Homo sapiens: one gene and its partners. The protein of the gene in region 2 interacts with the protein of the main gene of each other region in a pairwise test. Each region holds a gene or a part of one and is shown on either strand. Other genes may lie near its edges.

Evidence for each region.
Region 1: the proteins of CCR5 (region 2) and PSMA5 interact in a two-hybrid assay, tested with the Homo sapiens proteins (one study listed by BioGRID).
Region 3: the proteins of CCR5 (region 2) and ACKR1 interact in binary tests that used the Homo sapiens proteins (3 or more experiments, as listed by UniProt).

Annotation. Positions count from the first base shown.
Region 1 is NC_000001.11:109,416,426-109,423,448, forward strand, and holds part of PSMA5 (proteasome subunit alpha type-5), read right to left. Parts: intron 5,502-7,023; coding exon 5,435-5,501; intron 1-5,434. UniProt on the Homo sapiens protein: Component of the 20S core proteasome complex involved in the proteolytic degradation of most intracellular proteins. This complex plays numerous essential roles within the cell by associating with different regulatory particles.
Region 2 is NC_000003.12:46,366,922-46,373,968, forward strand, and holds the start of CCR5 (C-C chemokine receptor type 5), read left to right. Parts: upstream 1-4,024; 5' UTR 4,025-4,067; intron 4,068-4,322; exon of another isoform or gene 4,323-4,496; intron 4,497-5,970; 5' UTR 5,971-5,981; coding exon 5,982-7,040; 3' UTR 7,041-7,047. UniProt on the Homo sapiens protein: Receptor for a number of inflammatory CC-chemokines including CCL3/MIP-1-alpha, CCL4/MIP-1-beta and RANTES and subsequently transduces a signal by increasing the intracellular calcium ion level.
Region 3 is NC_000001.11:159,200,188-159,207,023, reverse strand, and holds ACKR1 (atypical chemokine receptor 1), read right to left. Parts: upstream 2,150-6,836; 5' UTR 2,065-2,149; coding exon 2,044-2,064; intron 1,614-2,043; exon of another isoform or gene 1,591-1,613; coding exon of another isoform or gene 1,564-1,590; coding exon 574-1,563; 3' UTR 524-573; downstream 1-523. Other genes in the region: CADM3 (cell adhesion molecule 3), read right to left, coding at 6,102-6,220. UniProt on the Homo sapiens protein: Atypical chemokine receptor that controls chemokine levels and localization via high-affinity chemokine binding that is uncoupled from classic ligand-driven signal transduction cascades, resulting instead in chemokine sequestration, degradation, or transcytosis.

The DNA of each region.
Region 1 (7,023 bases), on a different chromosome or scaffold from region 2:
TGCACCCCTCTGCTCATGCTGTCTCCCCTGGAATACATTCTTCCTTCCCCCAATCCAAATTCCACTCATCAAAGCCTTCCATGACTATGCTTTCTGCTTTGAATTCCATTATATTTAGTTATTTCTACAAAGTAATCACTGCCAAGTGTGAGCACTGCAAAGAGTTCCAAAGAATCCCACGAATCTTTATGTATAACTTGCTTAACATGTCTGCAGACTGAATGATCATTTCACACGCATATATATTATTTTTCAAATGTGTTGAGTTGTGACTTTATTTAGAAGTGTTATTAAATGTACACCAGCTTTTTGTCATGTATTTTCTTAATCAGTGGATACCTGCATAACTACAGGAGATGAACTGTCAAAAAATTTTATGTAAAAAAATGAGTACTCAGGTTGGGCATGGTGGCTCATGCCTGTAATCCCAGCACTTTGGGAGGCTGAGGTGGGCAGATTGCATGAGTCCAGGAGTTCAAGACCAGCCTGGGCAACATGGTGAAACCCTGTTTCTATAAAAAATACAATAATTAGCCAGGCTTGGTGGCGTATGCCTGTACTCCCAGCTACGCGGAAGGCTGAAACGGTAGGACTGCTTGAGCCCGGGAGGCAGAGGTTGTAGTGAGCCAAGATCACGCCATTGCATTCCAGCCTGGACAACAGAGTGAGACCCCATCTCAAAAAATAAATAAATAAAAATGAATGCTCATATTTCTAGTTAAAGGTGCAGACTAAAGACATAACATTAGTTCCACGCCTTCCTTAAGTCTATTGATGTAAGATTAAAGGACTTCTAAAAAGGCATAAATCCACTATAACAGAGAGTGGGAGAAGACACAGCAACAAAACTTTGAAGCTAAAAAGAAGATAGGTTAGTGATACCTGGGTAATCCAAATCCTAAACCAGCCGTAAAGAAAGTAAAGAAACAACCTGATTTTTATCACAGGACCTCAAAAAAGGAAATGGTGGCAACAAGGACCTCTGGAAATGGAAATGAACAAGGAGCTAAAAATTGCAAGGTGGTTCAATGTTTAAGAAACAGATTCCCGGATCCCCTCCCCTATGCTGTAAAGCTAGACGACTGCACCTCCCCCACTCCCGTGGAAGACTCCAGGCTTATTCTCTGGAGACCGTAAAATAGAGCGTCTTTGGATTGGGGACACCAAGCACAGTCTAAGGCAGGAATAATGTACTGAAAACGGGATAAATATGTAAAAATTTCCAAACCAAATGTTAAGAACCTCAGCCTTCTTTCCCTACTCAGCTCTCAGAAGCCAGCAGCCAGAAATACCCTCCCGGAATGAAATGAGAAGAGGCAGTTTTCTCCTGAGCAATGTTTTTCAAACTTTTTGACCAAAAGCCACAGTAAGGAATACATTTGATTTCATAACTAAAACCCACAAATAAATATAAATACATAACAGAAACAAAATTTCAGGAAAAAAACCACTCATCACTACTATGGGCAAGGCATTTTGATATCTACTGCTCTGTTTCACTTAAAAAAGAAATGTGGGCCAGGAGTGGTGGCTCATGCCTATAATCACAACACTTTGGGAGGCTGAGGCAGGAAGATCACTTGAGCCCAGGAGTTTGAGACCAGCCTGGGCAACATGGCAAAACTTTACCTCCACAAAAAATAAAAAAAAATAACTGGGTGTGGTGGCATGTGCCTGTAGCTGGGGGCTGAGGTGGGAGGATCACTTGAGCCTGGGAGGTTGAGGCTGCAGTGAGCTGTGATCGTACCACTGCACTCCAGTCTAGGTGACAGAGTGACATTCTGTCTCAAAAGAAATGCTCCTCATGACCACTAAATTTATTTTATTATCTCCTAATAGGTCTAGACCTGCAGTTTGAAAAACATAGCTCTAAACAATCTGACCAGTTCAAAAGGAAAAAAAAATATTTTAGACAGGGTCTCACTCTGTTGCCCACGATGGAGTGCAGTGGCACAATCACGTCTCATGGAGCCCCAACCTCCCAGGCTCACGAGATCTTCCCACCTAAGCCTGCAAAATAGCTAAGACTACAGGTGTACACTACTACACTCAACTAATTTTTTAAATTTTTTGTGAAGACAAAGTCTCACTATGTTGCTCAGGCTGGTCTTGAACTTCTAGACTCAAGCAGTCCTCCTGCCTCAGCGTCCCAAAGTGCTAGGATTACAGGTGTGAGCCTTGCCCAGCCTAATTTTTTAAATTTTTTCTAGACACGGGCTATGTTGCCCAGGCTAGTCTTGAACTCCTAGGCTCAAGTGATTCTCCTCCCTCAGCCTCCCAAAGTACTGAGATTATAGGGATGAGCAACAATGTCCACAAGGAAAAAAATTTTCAAGAAAAATTAGAAAATTGTTGAAGAAAAACAAGACATTTCATCCATAAAACAAGAACGGGATGCTAATAAGAAGAAAAGAAACAAAAGAAGTTGAAAATTAAAAATTATTTCTGGCCAAACACGGTGGCTCATGCCTATAATCCCAGCAATTTGGGAGGGTGAGGCGGGCAGATCACCTGAGGTCAGGAGCTCAAGACTAGCCTGACCAACATGGACAAACCCCGTCTCTACTAAAAATGCAAAATTAGCCAGCGTGGTGGCGCATGCCTGTAATCCCAGCTACTCAGGAGGCTGAGGCAGGAGAATCGCTTGAACACGGGAGGCGGAGGTTGCAGTGAGCCGAGATCACGCCATTGCACTCCAGCCTGGGCAACAAGAGCAAAACTCCACCTCAAAATAAATAAATAAATAAATAGTTTCTACAATACTACTGGAAAATGGGTTCTACCAAATTGAGCAAATAAATCAAAAAAGATGACATGGGGCCTTACACAAGAGGGAGTTAAAGGGAATGCCTAGAATGATCTCACAGAAAATGAAGTCCACAGGTACACAGGAGGCCCAGAGAACAACCAGTCCAGACTGGAGCAGATTAGAAGGCTCCAAGATTTCATTAAGAATCCTTAATAGGGCACTGTGGCTCATACCTGTAATTCCAACACTTTGGGAGGCCTAGGTGGGCGGATCACTTGAGCTCAGGAGCTCGAGACCAGCCTGTGCAACACAGCGAAACCCCGTCTCTACAAAAAATACAAAAACTTAGGCCAGGCGCGGTGGCTCACATCTGTAATCCCAGCACTCTGGGAGGCAGAGGCAGGTGGATCACAGGGTCAGGAGTTCGAGACCAGCCTGACCGATATGGTGAAACACCATCTCTACTAAAAATACAAAAATTAGGTGTGGTGGCACGCGCCTGTAATCCCAGCTATTCAGGAGGCTGAGGCAGGAGAATTGCTTGAACCTGGGAGGCAGAGGTTGCAGTGGGCTGAGATAGCGCCACTGCACTCCAGCCTGGGTGAGAGAGTGAGACTCCGTCTCAAAAAAAAAAAAAAAAAAAAAAAAAACAAGCCGCGCATGGTTGTGCATAGCTGTAGTCCCGGCTACTTTGGGGGCTGAGGCGGGAGGATCACTTGAGCCTGGTAGGTTGAGGCTGCAGTGACCTGAGATGCGCCACTGCATTCTAGCCTGGGTGACAGAGCAAGACTCTGTCTCAAAAAAAAAAAAAAAAAGGAATCCTTAATAGGACACTTAATTTGCCTGAATGTTTTGAGAGGATACATGTAACCTGGAGAGACTTTGGAATGCATTATTGATCATCCTAAATTAAGCAAATATTTTTAAAAAGAGAATTATTAACTCCAAGAAAAACAATGTTGTGCAGAAACAGAAAAATAATTATAAAATGCAAAATGGCTCAGCTGTGAAAAGCATTTAGTTATACTAATGTAACTATTGACTAATGATCTTACAAAATTATGATATTCATGATATATATGGAGAGGGTCACCCTATCCCCACCTCAGAAGACAATTGTGTGTGGTGGGGAGTAGGGGTGTGGGGTTAGGGCAGAAATCTTCATCTTTCATAATGAAAAGTCCATGGATAATGCCTAATAAAAAAAAACCATACATCTGTGTTATAGAGATATGGAGGTACAGTCCTAGAACATTACCAGCTGAAACAATTTAAAGTGTTGCCTCTGAAAAGCTGAACCTAGATGATGCAGGCCTCAAGAATTGCTATTTTTGTTACAAGGTTTATAGAACTACTTTGCCTTCTAACTCTGAAACTACATGCATGTATACCTTAAAAATCAAACAAATATATAATCAGAAACCATTGCCAGAAAACTTAATTTAGCACTTAGTTGTTCTCTAATTGTTTTATGTATAGTATACTGATCTTGAATCCCTAACTGAACAGAGTAGGACAGAATTCATATATACTTTTTATCTAGAAGAGTGATTCTCAATTGGGGGCCCTTTTGTCCCCACCAGACATTTGGCAAAGTCTGGAGACATTTTTGATGGTCACAACTGAAAGAGTGCTACTGGCACCTAATGGGTAGTACCCAGGAATTGATAAACATGCTAAAATGTACAAGATGGCCCTCCACAACAAAGAATTATCCAGTCCACGCCAGGTGTGGTGGCTCACACCTGTAAATCCCAACACTTTGAGAGGCTGAGGCAGGAGGATCACTTGAGCCCAGGAGTTTGAGACCAACTTGGGCAACATAGCAAGACCACATCTCTACCAAAAAAAAAAAAAAAAAAAAATTAGCCAGGCATGGTGCACACATCTGTACCCTAGCTGCTAGGGAGGTTAAGGTGGGAGGAAAGCTTGAGCCCAGGAGTTAGAAGCTGCAGTGAGCTAAGATGGTGTCACTGTACTCCAGCATGGGTGACAGAGTGAGACCCTGTCTCTAAAAAACCACTAAAACAAATCTCTTATTTAGTCCCTAAGGTGACTTTACCAACAAGAACACAAAGGTGGGCTGTGCGTGGTGGCTCACGCCTGTAATCCCAGCACTTTGGGAGGCTGAGATGGGCGAATCATTTGAGGTCAGGGGTTCGAGACCAGCCTGGTGGTACTGGGAGGCTGAGGCAGGAAAATCACTTGAACCCGAGGGGCGGAGGTTGCAGTAAGCTGAGATCACGCCACTGAACTCCAGCCTGGGCAACTGAGAGAGACTCCATCTCAAAAAAAAAAAAAAAGAAAGAAAAAGAAAGAATACAAAGGTGGTCAGATACATGATTTGCTAAAGAAAACAAAACAGAAAAAGTAATACAGGTGCTAATTCTGGACTTCTGTACCTCTCTTTATAGCTAAGAGGATCAAAAGCACAAATATGTCCCTCCACCCCCACTGAGAAAAAGCTATTTAGATAATTATGAAGCAGTTAACTGCTCAAAAAGTTTTAAAATAGATATTAGGAATAGGATTGAAACTGTTATAAAAATGGTTAACAGTGGTTGCTTAAAGGGATATAAGAACATTTTCTAAAGGAATGGTTAAACCACATTTACTCCAAGTGTTCTGCCAGCAAAATGTTAGGTAGCCATGAAATTTCAGGACCTATGCTACTTGCTACTATACCTTGATAGCCTCAATGGCATATTCCACTTGAAATAATCTTCCTTCGGGAGAAAAAGTATTCACGCCCCTATAATTTAAAAAAAAATTATTAATTATACTCATAAAAACTAGCCATGTAGACACTGAATTCAAGTTCCTTGACAACTAGCTCAGATAGCTACAGAATACGCACATTGTCATTATTCTCTACTTCGCCCACAACAATCTGTAGCATTTTTTTGTACATTAACAGTTTCTCAAGGCAATGGAACCTATATATAGAACACTTCTGCCTCACTCCCAGAAAGTCTTCCCAAATTGATGAAATGAGAGCAAATGACTTTTCTGCCTCAATCCTGAATCAACTTGGATCCATTCTGAATAGACTTACCAGTTCCTTTGGTAAGTTCATGCCTCAAAACTATCAGCCAATTTCCAAGAAAATGTGCATTTTTCCTTATCCTCTTCCCATAACATGCATATGACGTTAATACTTGGGGTTATCACTCTTCTTTCCATTCTCAATGCCCTCATTACCTTTCACCTAACGTTTGTAATAGTCTCCTAACAGGTATTGACTCGTGGAGCAAGTAGGAAGAGTTTTCCCCCTAATTCAGACAATCTCTATAAAACACAGTTATTACTTTTTTTTTTTTTTTTTTGAGACAGAGTCTCGCTCTGTCGCTCAGGCGGGTGCGATCTCAGCTCACTGTAACCTCCGCCTCCTGGGTTCAAGCAGTTATCCTGCCTCAGCCTCCCCAGCAGCTAAGACTACAGGTGCATGCCACCACGCCCGGCTAATTTTTGTATTTTTAGTAGAGATGGGGTTTCACCATATTGGCCAGGCTGGTCTTGAACTCCTGACCTCGTGATCCACCCGCCTCGGCCTCCCAAAATGCTGGGATTACAGGCATGAACCACTGTGCCTGGGCCTAATTATTACTTTTTACTAAAAGTTAGTCACAGGTACATTTCTCTACTTATTTGTATGAATTACTATTGTTATCTTAACAGACTGAGATCCATGTAGTTCCTAATTCTAACCTAGTTCATTCACTCAATATTTATATAACTTACATGTCAGACTGCTTTCCTCTCTAAACACTTCCCCTTAACACTTAACACTTTCCACCTTTCCTTGCTCAAGTGTGCTGGAAATCCCTACGGAGAAGAGGCACCAATCATGGTCTCAGCTATAAAAGCTTTGAGCACACAATGGACACAAAAAATATGTGAACAAATGAATGAGATGGTTGCAATCCGTGGTTTATGGAGTCCAGACTTTACAACAGGTAACATGTCATATAGTAGTGCTTTTGGCCTGGCGTGGTGGCTCACGCCTGTAATCCCAGCACGTTGGGAGGATGAGGCAGGCGGATCACCTGAGGTCAGGAGTTCGAGACCAGGCTGGCCAACAAGGTGAAACCCCGTCTCTACTAAAAACACATAAATTAGCTGGGCGTGGTGGCAGGTGCCTGTAATCCCAGCTACTTGAGAGGCTAAGGCATGAGAATCACTTGAACCCAGGAGGCGGAGGTTGCAGTGAGCCGAGATGGTGCCACTACACTCCAGCCTGGGAGAGTGCTAAGCACAAGTTACTTCCAAATCTC
Region 2 (7,047 bases):
TGATGGTGACAATCAGTGTGACACTGCTCACATGACTGAACAACCGAGAAGAGCCCGACTGTCTACTGAACAACGGGAAGAGCCCGACTGTCAATGACGGAGCTCTGTTAAATATAGTTAAGGCTATTTTGTTGAATGAATGAAGCCAGACAGGAAAGAGGACAGTATCTTTAATCCATTTATAGAAGTTAAAGACAGGCTTATTTAATCTCTATGAAGACAGAGTGGCCCTTACCTCTGGGTGGAGCAAAAGGCACCTTCTGAAGTGATAGGGATGTTCCTTATCATCTTGATCCGGAGTGGTAGTTACATGCATGTGTGCATATCAAAACTCACCAAGCTGTACCACTAAGTGTGTTCTTCCTCAATAAAAATAATAAAGAACTACACTTATAAAGAATTTTTTAATAATATAGGAAAATGTCTACACTATAATCTTTAGCTAAAAAAAAAAAAAAAAGAAGCCGCCTACAGAATGGTATATGCATGAGAACAATTAATCGAAAAGTGCATGGGAAAAGTCAGGATTGAAACATCATGTTTTAAAAGACATTGTTTTGATACTGTGAGAATGTACCTAAGTTTTTCCTTTTTTCTGTTTTTCCCAATTTTATACAATGAGCATGTGTTGGTTTTATAATTAGACATTTTGTTTGTTTGGTTTGGTTTTGAGACACAGCTTGCTGTCACCCAGGTTGGAGTGCAATGGCCCAATCTTGGTTCACTGCAACCTCCATCTCCTGGGTTCAAGAGATTCTCCCACTTCAGCCTCCTGAGTAGCTGGGACTATAGGGGCGCACCACCACATCCAGCTAATTTTGTGTATTTTTAGTAGAGATGGGGTTTCACCATGCTGGCCAGGTTGGTCTCAAACTCCTGACCTCAAGTTATCCACTCGCCTTGGCTTCCCAAAGTGCTGGGATTATAGGCATGAGCCACCGCACTTGGCCTAGACATTTGTTTTTAAAAATAAAAGATTCATTTGCTCTTTTTACAGCCCGTCTCACTGTTGACTGATATTGACCAGGAGTCAACTCAGGCCCCAGGGATTTTCACAACAGCTGCTGTATGGCAGGGTTTCTGCTCACTGTGCTCATGTAGTTGGCCCTTGCACCCAAAGTGAATAATTAACATTCTCCCCATCCTGTTGACGATGCTCTGAAAATATGGTCCAGAAATGGTGTGAGCAAGGAGACAGCAAAGCAATGCTTGGAACATAGGTGCAGTGACTAGACATGGGGCAGCTGTTTAAAGACAAAAAGGCCCCAAAAAGGAGGGATGGCACGAAACACCCTCCAATATGGGCATGGAGTCTAGAGTGACAAAGTGATCAAAAGTTCATTTCCTATGGGGTGTCCGAATGTACTTAATAATAAAAAGAGAACAAGAGCCATGCAAACTGAGAGGGACAAAGTAGAAAGAGTAGCAGACACCAAGCAACTAAGTCACAGCATGATAAGCTGCTAGCTTGTTGTCATTATTGTATCCAGAACAACATTTCATTTAAATGCTGAAGAATTTCCCATGGGTCCCCACTTTCTTGTGAATCCTTGGGCTGAACCCCCCTGTCCTGAGTGGTTACTAGAACACACCTCTGGACCAGAAACACAAAAGTGGAGTAACGCACACTGCAAAGCTGTGCTTCCTTGTTTCAGCCTGTGAATCCTCACCTTGTTTCCCATCTAGCCTATATTTTTCAAACTAACTTGGCCATAGAATCATGTAGTATTTAGGGTGGAAGCTGCCCCAGGTCTAGCACGTCATTTAACAGATGAGGAAATGGAAGCTTGGGCAGTGGAAGTATCTTGCCGAGGTCACACAGCAAGTCAGCAGCACAGCGTGTGTGACTCCGAGCCTGCTCCGCTAGCCCACATTGCCCTCTGGGGGTGAGTATGTCTTCACATCCTCCAATACCCTAATGACAGACAAACAGAACATGGCAAAGCCTCAGCTCTGCATGGTGAAAGTAAGAACCAGCAATTGCCACAAACAGAAATACAGTGTTGGTCCGGCAGCCTCCGGGGGTTCTGCACAAGTGGATTACCAGTGAATACAAGGCTATCTATCTTTCGAAAAACCAAAGTTGTATTTATGCTATCTATTTTCTATAAAATTTTATATTAATTTATTTGTTACCTATTTTTGAACTCTTTCAAAAGCACACTTTATATTTCCCTGCTTAAACAGTCCCCCGAGGGTGGGTGCCCAAAAGGCTCTACACTTGTTATCATTCCCTCTCCACCACAGGCATATTGAGTAAGTTTGTATTTGGGTTTTTTTAAAACCTCCACTCTACAGTTAAGAAAACTAAGGCACAGAGCTTCAATAATTTGGTCAGAGCCAAGTAGCAGTAATGAAGCTGGAGGTTAAACCCAGCAGCATGACTGCAGTTCTTAATCAATGCCTTTTGAATTGCACATATGGGATGAACTAGAACATTTTCTCGATGATTCGCTGTCCTTGTTATGATTATGTTACTGAGCTCTGTTGTAGCACAGACATATGTCCCTATATGGGGCGGGGGTGGGGGTGTCTTGATCGCTGGGCTATTTCTATACTGTTCTGGCTTTTCCCAAGCAGTCATTTCTTTCTATTCTCCAAGCACCAGCAATTAGCTTTACCTTTTCAGCTTCTAGTTTGCTGAAACTAATCTGCTATAGACAGAGACTCCGGTGAACCAATTTTATTAGGATTTGATCAAATAAACTCTCTCTGACAAAGGACTGCTGAAAGAGTAACTAAGAGTTTGATGTTTACTGAGTGCATAGTATGTGCTAGATGCTGGCCGTGGATGCCTCATAGAATCCTCCCAACAACTCATGAAATGACTACTGTCATTCAGCCCAATACCCAGACGAGAAAGCTGAGGGTAAGACAGGTTTCAAGCTTGGCAGTCTGACTACAGAGGCCACTGGCTTAGCCCCTGGGTTAGTCTGCCTCTGTAGGATTGGGGGCACGTAATTTTGCTGTTTGGGGTCTCATTTGCCTTCTTAGAGATCACAAGCCAAAGCTTTTTATTCTAGAGCCAAGGTCACGGAAGCCCAGAGGGCATCTTGTGGCTCGGGAGTAGCTCTCTGCTGTCTTCTCAGCTCTGCTGACAATACTTGAGATTTTCAGATGTCACCAACCGCCAAGAGAGCTTGATATGACTGTATATAGTATAGTCATAAAGAACCTGAACTTGACCATATACTTATGTCATGTGGAAAATTTCTCATAGCTTCAGATAGATTATATCTGGAGTGAAGAATCCTGCCACCTATGTATCTGGCATAGTGTGAGTCCTCATAAATGCTTACTGGTTTGAAGGGCAACAAAATAGTGAACAGAGTGAAAATCCCCACTAAGATCCTGGGTCCAGAAAAAGATGGGAAACCTGTTTAGCTCACCCGTGAGCCCATAGTTAAAACTCTTTAGACAACAGGTTGTTTCCGTTTACAGAGAACAATAATATTGGGTGGTGAGCATCTGTGTGGGGGTTGGGGTGGGATAGGGGATACGGGGAGAGTGGAGAAAAAGGGGACACAGGGTTAATGTGAAGTCCAGGATCCCCCTCTACATTTAAAGTTGGTTTAAGTTGGCTTTAATTAATAGCAACTCTTAAGATAATCAGAATTTTCTTAACCTTTTAGCCTTACTGTTGAAAAGCCCTGTGATCTTGTACAAATCATTTGCTTCTTGGATAGTAATTTCTTTTACTAAAATGTGGGCTTTTGACTAGATGAATGTAAATGTTCTTCTAGCTCTGATATCCTTTATTCTTTATATTTTCTAACAGATTCTGTGTAGTGGGATGAGCAGAGAACAAAAACAAAATAATCCAGTGAGAAAAGCCCGTAAATAAACCTTCAGACCAGAGATCTATTCTCTAGCTTATTTTAAGCTCAACTTAAAAAGAAGAACTGTTCTCTGATTCTTTTCGCCTTCAATACACTTAATGATTTAACTCCACCCTCCTTCAAAAGAAACAGCATTTCCTACTTTTATACTGTCTATATGATTGATTTGCACAGCTCATCTGGCCAGAAGAGCTGAGACATCCGTTCCCCTACAAGAAACTCTCCCCGGTAAGTAACCTCTCAGCTGCTTGGCCTGTTAGTTAGCTTCTGAGATGAGTAAAAGACTTTACAGGAAACCCATAGAAGACATTTGGCAAACACCAAGTGCTCATACAATTATCTTAAAATATAATCTTTAAGATAAGGAAAGGGTCACAGTTTGGAATGAGTTTCAGACGGTTATAACATCAAAGATACAAAACATGATTGTGAGTGAAAGACTTTAAAGGGAGCAATAGTATTTTAATAACTAACAATCCTTACCTCTCAAAAGAAAGATTTGCAGAGAGATGAGTCTTAGCTGAAATCTTGAAATCTTATCTTCTGCTAAGGAGAACTAAACCCTCTCCAGTGAGATGCCTTCTGAATATGTGCCCACAAGAAGTTGTGTCTAAGTCTGGTTCTCTTTTTTCTTTTTCCTCCAGACAAGAGGGAAGCCTAAAAATGGTCAAAATTAATATTAAATTACAAACGCCAAATAAAATTTTCCTCTAATATATCAGTTTCATGGCACAGTTAGTATATAATTCTTTATGGTTCAAAATTAAAAATGAGCTTTTCTAGGGGCTTCTCTCAGCTGCCTAGTCTAAGGTGCAGGGAGTTTGAGACTCACAGGGTTTAATAAGAGAAAATTCTCAGCTAGAGCAGCTGAACTTAAATAGACTAGGCAAGACAGCTGGTTATAAGACTAAACTACCCAGAATGCATGACATTCATCTGTGGTGGCAGACGAAACATTTTTTATTATATTATTTCTTGGGTATGTATGACAACTCTTAATTGTGGCAACTCAGAAACTACAAACACAAACTTCACAGAAAATGTGAGGATTTTACAATTGGCTGTTGTCATCTATGACCTTCCCTGGGACTTGGGCACCCGGCCATTTCACTCTGACTACATCATGTCACCAAACATCTGATGGTCTTGCCTTTTAATTCTCTTTTCGAGGACTGAGAGGGAGGGTAGCATGGTAGTTAAGAGTGCAGGCTTCCCGCATTCAAAATCGGTTGCTTACTAGCTGTGTGGCTTTGAGCAAGTTACTCACCCTCTCTGTGCTTCAAGGTCCTTGTCTGCAAAATGTGAAAAATATTTCCTGCCTCATAAGGTTGCCCTAAGGATTAAATGAATGAATGGGTATGATGCTTAGAACAGTGATTGGCATCCAGTATGTGCCCTCGAGGCCTCTTAATTATTACTGGCTTGCTCATAGTGCATGTTCTTTGTGGGCTAACTCTAGCGTCAATAAAAATGTTAAGACTGAGTTGCAGCCGGGCATGGTGGCTCATGCCTGTAATCCCAGCATTCTAGGAGGCTGAGGCAGGAGGATCGCTTGAGCCCAGGAGTTCGAGACCAGCCTGGGCAACATAGTGTGATCTTGTATCTATAAAAATAAACAAAATTAGCTTGGTGTGGTGGCGCCTGTAGTCCCCAGCCACTTGGAGGGGTGAGGTGAGAGGATTGCTTGAGCCCGGGATGGTCCAGGCTGCAGTGAGCCATGATCGTGCCACTGCACTCCAGCCTGGGCGACAGAGTGAGACCCTGTCTCACAACAACAACAACAACAACAAAAAGGCTGAGCTGCACCATGCTTGACCCAGTTTCTTAAAATTGTTGTCAAAGCTTCATTCACTCCATGGTGCTATAGAGCACAAGATTTTATTTGGTGAGATGGTGCTTTCATGAATTCCCCCAACAGAGCCAAGCTCTCCATCTAGTGGACAGGGAAGCTAGCAGCAAACCTTCCCTTCACTACAAAACTTCATTGCTTGGCCAAAAAGAGAGTTAATTCAATGTAGACATCTATGTAGGCAATTAAAAACCTATTGATGTATAAAACAGTTTGCATTCATGGAGGGCAACTAAATACATTCTAGGACTTTATAAAAGATCACTTTTTATTTATGCACAGGGTGGAACAAGATGGATTATCAAGTGTCAAGTCCAATCTATGACATCAATTATTATACATCGGAGCCCTGCCAAAAAATCAATGTGAAGCAAATCGCAGCCCGCCTCCTGCCTCCGCTCTACTCACTGGTGTTCATCTTTGGTTTTGTGGGCAACATGCTGGTCATCCTCATCCTGATAAACTGCAAAAGGCTGAAGAGCATGACTGACATCTACCTGCTCAACCTGGCCATCTCTGACCTGTTTTTCCTTCTTACTGTCCCCTTCTGGGCTCACTATGCTGCCGCCCAGTGGGACTTTGGAAATACAATGTGTCAACTCTTGACAGGGCTCTATTTTATAGGCTTCTTCTCTGGAATCTTCTTCATCATCCTCCTGACAATCGATAGGTACCTGGCTGTCGTCCATGCTGTGTTTGCTTTAAAAGCCAGGACGGTCACCTTTGGGGTGGTGACAAGTGTGATCACTTGGGTGGTGGCTGTGTTTGCGTCTCTCCCAGGAATCATCTTTACCAGATCTCAAAAAGAAGGTCTTCATTACACCTGCAGCTCTCATTTTCCATACAGTCAGTATCAATTCTGGAAGAATTTCCAGACATTAAAGATAGTCATCTTGGGGCTGGTCCTGCCGCTGCTTGTCATGGTCATCTGCTACTCGGGAATCCTAAAAACTCTGCTTCGGTGTCGAAATGAGAAGAAGAGGCACAGGGCTGTGAGGCTTATCTTCACCATCATGATTGTTTATTTTCTCTTCTGGGCTCCCTACAACATTGTCCTTCTCCTGAACACCTTCCAGGAATTCTTTGGCCTGAATAATTGCAGTAGCTCTAACAGGTTGGACCAAGCTATGCAGGTGACAGAGACTCTTGGGATGACGCACTGCTGCATCAACCCCATCATCTATGCCTTTGTCGGGGAGAAGTTCAGAAACTACCTCTTAGTCTTCTTCCAAAAGCACATTGCCAAACGCTTCTGCAAATGCTGTTCTATTTTCCAGCAAGAGGCTCCCGAGCGAGCAAGCTCAGTTTACACCCGATCCACTGGGGAGCAGGAAATATCTGTGGGCTTGTGACACGGAC
Region 3 (6,836 bases), on a different chromosome or scaffold from region 2:
GAGGAACCTGGGAGAGATGACTCCCAGGAAGTGGCTTTTTAAATTACCTTGATATGTTCCCTGAACTGAGTAACATCCCCTGGGATGCTTCTTTCACCTTCCCCACCACTGTCCTAATCACTAAACAAAGCCAGAGAGGAGACAGAAGACAGAGGCTGGGCAGGTTGGACAGGGGGAGGTGGTATTGCTCTGGGCTTTGTCATCACTCTTCACTGTTTATCTCTCAGTTTGAGTTCCTATTCCATTTGCTTCCCAGAACAGCTTTTTTTCCAGCTAAGCCATCCCTTCTGTTTTTTTTGGTTTAATGACTCCCCTCATGCTCTGGTTCCTCTTCTCTTCTCCCTTGAGATGGCCGTGACCCCACACCTCAAGAGAACATCTGTGTACCCTGAGGGTATTTATTCATCATTCACCTTCTTCCCAAGCCAGCTATAGAAGCAGACACTGGCAAGAAAGTCTGACATAAAAATGTCTCTCTCTCCATTCTCCTTCTTCTCCCCAGACAAAATAAGAAACCACCCGCTTCACAAAGGCAGTGTAGACTTTAATTCAGGTTGACAGGTGGGAAGAGAACTAGGATTTGCTTCCAAGGGTGTCCAGATGAGAAGACCATCCTTCAGGGAGGGGCAGAGAGGGCAAGAGGGTGCGGGTGGCCTGGTGGCAGAATAGGGCGAGGAGCAGGGGCGTAGCCACACAGTGCAAAATTGCCAGGGCTTCTGCCAGGTTCAGCAGCAGGTCCAGAGCCTGCTGGGCCAGACATGTTGACAACAGCAACAGCTTGGACCTCACCAGGAAATCCAGTCCTAGAACCACCCCATGAGGCCACCAGAAAATAAACCAGGCCCACAGGATATTCATCCAGGGGCCTGGCCCCATACCCAATGCCTTCTTCAGCCCCTTGGCTCCAAACAAACCCAATGGCAACAAGACAAAGATGGCAAGACAGGCTACAGTGTGTGTGGCCTGCAAAGCCTTCAGCTCCGTGCTGTATATCAGGGTGCAGAGTCCACCAGAAGCACCACTGGCCAGGGTGACAGGCAGTGTCAGTAGGGCAGCCACTCCCCAAATTCCCACAGTGAGCCCCAGGGTGAGGCCTGGGACCTGGCCTGCACCCAGTCTGTGGCCCAGGGAGGCATGGCACCCTAGCAGCAAAGCCTGGGCAAAGGCTGAGCCATACCAGACACAGTAGCCCAGGCTACACAGGGCAGAGCTGCGAGTGCTACCTAGCCCTGGGGCCAAGACGGGCACCACAATGCTGAAGAGGGCACTGCCCACAGCCAGCTGTGCCAGGACAGGCCAGCCAGGGCAGAGCTGCCAGCGGAAGAGAGGTCTGAAAAGCATGAAGAGGACAGTGCTGCTAGCTAGGATACCCAGGACACTGGTGAGGATGAAGAAGGGCAGTGCAGAGTCATCCAGCAGGTTACAGGAGTGGCAGGGGGCAGCTGCTTCCAGGTTGGCACCATAGTCTCCATCTGGGAAGGAATCATTCACACCATAGGAAGAATTCCATACATCTTCGAAGTCCAGCTGACTTGAGTTCTCAGTTGAGGGGGAGAGCTCCGCCTGGAGGACATACCCAGAGGAGGCCATCAGAGTTACACCGGAAGAGTCTCCTGGGAATTGAGGGGCAGGTGGGAGGGGAGGACAGAGAGGAAGGTCGGGTGGGAGAACAAGGTCTCTGCAGGAGTCAGATGCAGTGCGGACAGTGGAAAAGGACAAAGCAGGGAGCCTGAAGAGCCGGAGCAGGAACAGTCCTGGGGAAGCCAGGGCAGCTGGGGCTGGAGGAGCAGTGCAAGGTCAGAAGGAAAAGGCACCAAGAGACCAGGATGGAACTGACTCAAAGGCAAAGGGAGGGACACAAGAGGGAGCTAGGAGGCTAGCATAGGAAGGAGAGAAGGAAAAAGACTTTGAAGGAAGAGGAAAAAAGCAGGAAGGGAGAAAAGATGAGGAGGAAAAGGAAGAGATATAAAGACTGAGGGGCAAACAGCAGGGGAAATGAGGGGCATAGGGATAAGGGACTCTGGGGCCTGGCCCCATACTCACCCTGTGCAGACAGTTCCCCATGGCACCGTTTGGTTCAGGCCCGCAGACAGAAGGGCTGGGACGGCTGTCAGCGCCTGTGCTTCCAAGATAAGAGCCAAGGACTAATGAGGGCCATCAGGTTCTGGGCAGGGACAGGGGGCATCAGGAAGCCTTACCCCACGCCCACTGCCTGCACAAGCCTCAGGCCTATGGGGGTCACTGGCCTTGGGTCTTCCTGTTTTGAGGTTGGATTTGGCTGGTTGGGACTACACTCAGGAAAAAGGTGGGGACCAGAAAGTGGGCATTTTACCGAAGTGGAAAGGGAGATTGAGAAAACAGGGGGCTTTCCAGCAAGTAGAGATTTTACCGAAGTGGAAAGGGAGATTGAGAAAACAGGGGGCTTTCCAGCAAGGAGAGATTCTTCAAGCACAAGGAAGGAAGAGAGGGGGGCTGGGTGACTTGTGAGGCAGAGATAAGGGAGGTGCTGGGAAATTGGAGTGGAAGGGCGGCTGACTCTCACTGCTCCTCCATCCCCTTGAACTGGATCCAAGGAAAGGCAGTTCAAAAGCCATGTGTTTGGGAGAAAGGTGGTGGTGGTCAACTCTGTCCCAACTGAGGGGTGTGTGCACGTGGGCGTGAGCTCTTTGTGTGTACTGAACTCTGTGTACGTTTGCTGTGTATCATTGTGCACATATCTGTATGTGAGGGGCTTGGCGGGTGTCTGGGTGTGTCTAGCTATCTCTAGGTCTGGGTGTTTCAGTGTGAGAGTGGGAGGGTTGGGGTGGCTGTCGAGGCTGCATAATGAAGCCATTTCAGGGAGCTATTGGGTGTTTGCCTAGCCACCTATGGGCTCAGTGCATGCCTCTTGCATATGAAGTGGAATACATGGTCTGACAAGTTAAAGTAGGCTCTAGGGGACAATGGGACAGCATATTTTAAAATGGGACCATTGCCCACAGGGTGATTTCTATTCATATTTCTACTGGGGGACATAAAGTCTCTGGAACTGTTTCATTGGCCAGGCATCTTAGCAATATGTAAAGTTTCTCACTGAGGGGCAGAGCTGGCCAGCAGAGAGAAAGGGCATCTACCCTGCAGGCAGGCCGATTCTCCCAAGCACATTTCACTTTTTTAGTGGCTTCTTCCCCCTCCCTCCCCTCCTCAGCTGTTTCCCCAGGATCGTCACTGTTTCATCACCCCTCTCTGCTTTTATTTCCTCAGCTAGGGAGACATAGTGGGGACTTTGGGAGCGGTGAGCCATGGCGTGTCCAAGTCAGAACAATGAGATAGAAAGGGCTGGTTAGGGGACGCTGTTTCATTTGTCCAAAACAGCATCGGCTGCTTCATCTCCAGTGTTGTTAAGGACCTTCTGTCCCATTCATGTAGGGCTTCCTAGGGGGCCAAGCACCTCAGACCTAAGGTGCAGAAGGATGGGTACCTCGTAGAGATTTCCCCCTTTTCTCCCAAGACACTAGCTCAAGTTTCAGGTTCAACATGAAGGGGCTGGAAAGTGAATTTGGTCTGGTGGTGTCTGGTGATGCTCTGCAGGGTGGGGTTGATGGCATCTCCATCGCCGTCTTAACATTCTCCAGCAATGCCTGGCAGAGGGTGGGGGGAAGCAGTCAGATGCCCCCCAAGACACTCTCTGGAAAGGAAGGGCTTAGCAAAAGGAAGTGAACACACTTCTCTCCCTTGTAGAGTTATATTGTTGCTGTACATAGATATTCTTGAGAGTGGCCTGGCAAGGGACACACCACCTTTTGAGGCACCAGGCACCAGGTGCAAGGGGTATGGGAAGAAGACCCTCACATACACACATCCCAGCAGCAGCAAGAGGACCAGAAAGGAGGCAGCTGAATGACACGGATAATCCAGATATATTGAGGGTGACCCCTCTGAGATTAGCACAGGAGAGTTAGAAAGATTATAAAGATACACGGTCCCCTCCCTGCTCCCTTCCCCCACCCCCCCACCCCTGGACAGACACACACAGCACAACAGCCCCTCTCCCTCCCACCCCCCCGTACAAATATGGCTTCTGTGTAATATGGACAGAGTGGTTCAGCTTGAAGAGGAAAAGTCATTTTCCCAAAAGCGGGTGCTGGGAGACAAGAAGCTCAACAGGCCTGGGGCCCCAGGGCTCTCTTGCTGTTGTAAGAGGAGTAGGCCCCGGCTTAGGTGAGGGGCTGCCTGTGGTGCCCAAGGCCCTAACCAGCGGCTGGAAGATTCACAACTGTATTACCTGAACTGAAGGGGGTGGGCAGGCCTGCTAGATTGCAGCTGCCCCTTTTTGCATGCCCATTGTCAGACCAGGGAGGAAAAGCTGGGGGAGGGTGGGAGCGATGCCAAGGGCATCCTGGATCTGAGGCGGGGCAGTCCAGCCAGGACAGGGAGGACCAGGAACCTCATCTCCACAGCAACCAGCTGGGGCCACGAGAAGGAAGACAGGAAATCAAAAGGAAGGGTGGGGACCCAGCCTTCAACTCACTGGGTACAGACTATGGGAAAAAATAGGTGGTGGTAGGTCTTTCCAGGGTCAACGCCAAGGAGAGGCCTGAGAGGTGCATAGCAAAGGCTGTGGCACTGACTCCATGGCTCAGAGGAGGGAAATCCAGGGAAGGGCTGAATGCTCTGTGTTTAAGGGAGAGATAGAATGGACAGCTGGGCAAACACACACCCGGGGACTCCTTTCTCCAAGACCGATGGGCATTGGGGGTGGCAGAGGAAATACCAGCATGGAACAACATCCCAGGTGAGGTGTGAACCCTGACTAGGAATACCCCATTCCCAAAGCCTCCCCAACATGTCCCACAGCCCTGTCCACTTGCCCAGGACCCCTGGCTCTTAGCCCTCCTCCTCAGTTCCTCGCTCTGCCTCTCACTCACTCACACACATGCACACACACACACACACATGCACACATGCATACACACCACACACATGCACACAGTTCACATTATTCCCTTAGTTTGGGCAGGAAACAGCTCACTGCAGTGAAGCTCCTTTTAGTAGTTTTGTTGTTATGTCTGCCTGGCTGCTGAGGGAGGAAGGATGAAGGGCTGGCGTTGGGACCAGGAAGGGGGCACAGGGTGGCCGGGAAGGGAGAAGTAGTTGCTGAGCAATGCCATGGGAGGAGTGGTTGCCGTGCAACAATCCAGAGTCTTGGGTAAGAGTGAGGGGCCCCTCAGGGGGGGAAGCAGAGGCAGTTCAGGCCCCAGAGCAGTGCCTCTCCCACTGCTGCTGGAGCAAGGAGGGGCAGCCACACTCTGCTATCTCCAAGGGCAGTTCCTATGGAAAGGGCCCGGCTTTGTTCATTTCCGGGGGGAATGGGGTGAGAGTCCACCTCCATCCTTCCTCTCCAAATCTACTCTTCCTTGCAGGGACCCGCGTCCTCCCCAGGTTACAGTCCTGGGTCCCTGCATGGCTGCATGTTGTCTGCAGGCCACATCTCCTCAGGACTCCCGCACTCATCACTTTCCCATTGCTATGGAAGAGAGGTGTCAAGGTGGCACCTGCCTCCCTGTCCGTAGTGCTCAGGTGTGTGGCTACCAGAGGAAAAGCCACTCCCAACCTTTGCCGACAACCATCCCGTTTCTGGGTTCCTGGAGAAGTCTGGGAAGCTGCTCTGTTGTAGAGGCTGAAAGGAGGGCTGGTGAGAGCCCCCAGCTGAAACCAGCCCTGCCCCTTACCCTTCCTCACCCCTCTACCTTCACTCTCCTCCTAACACTCCAGGGTTTTGTTTTTTGTTTGTTTTTTGCTTTTCTCACCCCAGGGCTCCTGCCTCTCCAGCCTGGAGACAGATTTGATTTGGGATTGTTACAAAAATAATAATAACCCAAATGCAGAGAAGCCACGGAAAGGGCTGAGGGCAACCCTCCCCTCCCCCCGCCCTCCTCCCTCCCCATTCCAAACCGAGTACAAAACCGCACCCAAAGCAGACATTCTGTACAGGGGGGTGGGTGGGCTGGGGAGCAAGCGGGAGGGGCGGCCCTGCGGTTGCTCTGTACAAGTCCGGGTTGGTGACGGCCCCAGCAGTCCCCACAGGGCCCCTGGGGGGCGCAGGAAGTGGGCAGGCGCCTCTAGATGAAATATTCCTTCTTGTCGTCCCCTCCTGACTGCCCGCCTTCTGCATTGATGATGGCCGTGTCCGCGTCTGGAGCATCGTCGGAGCCTTTTGCCTCATGTGTCAGGTAGGTTCCTGTGTAGAGACAGAGGCTTCTCCTCTCAGGAGCAGCTTCCCAACCTCTGAGTCCACCCTGCCCACTTTCTCACCCACCCACTCACACACTGCTCAAGTAATTTTTCTCTTGCCAATAGCTCTCTTCTACTCCACCTTACCTAATTCGCATTTTGCTTCCAACATGCCTCACCTGACCACACCCTTCATGAATAATGAATCCTACCCCTAAGTAGAATCTCATCTATAATACAAAGCAAGAAAGAGAAGTGTGTGTGTGTGTGTGTGTGTGTGTGTGTGTGTGTGCTTGCACGCATGCGTGTGTGTGTGTATGCATGCGTGTGCACGCAACTTGGTGACGGGGGATCTGCTATGTCAGCTTCATGAGCAAAGCAATTGAGATCTGGCTTATGTATGACCAGCCTATGGAGTCAGGCCGCTGGCTAGAATTAATAGCAGAGCAGGAAGTCTGAGAGGAAGGAATGTGAGAAGAGGGTAGAGAGAAGGCATGGATATAAGAGAGAAGGTAGAAAAGGGGGAGAGGAAAGAAAGGCAATGAGATCAAAGGAGAAAGAAAATGAGGTTAAACAGACAGAAAGGAAGAAAGCGCAGGAAGCAATGAGATGGAGATGCAGTT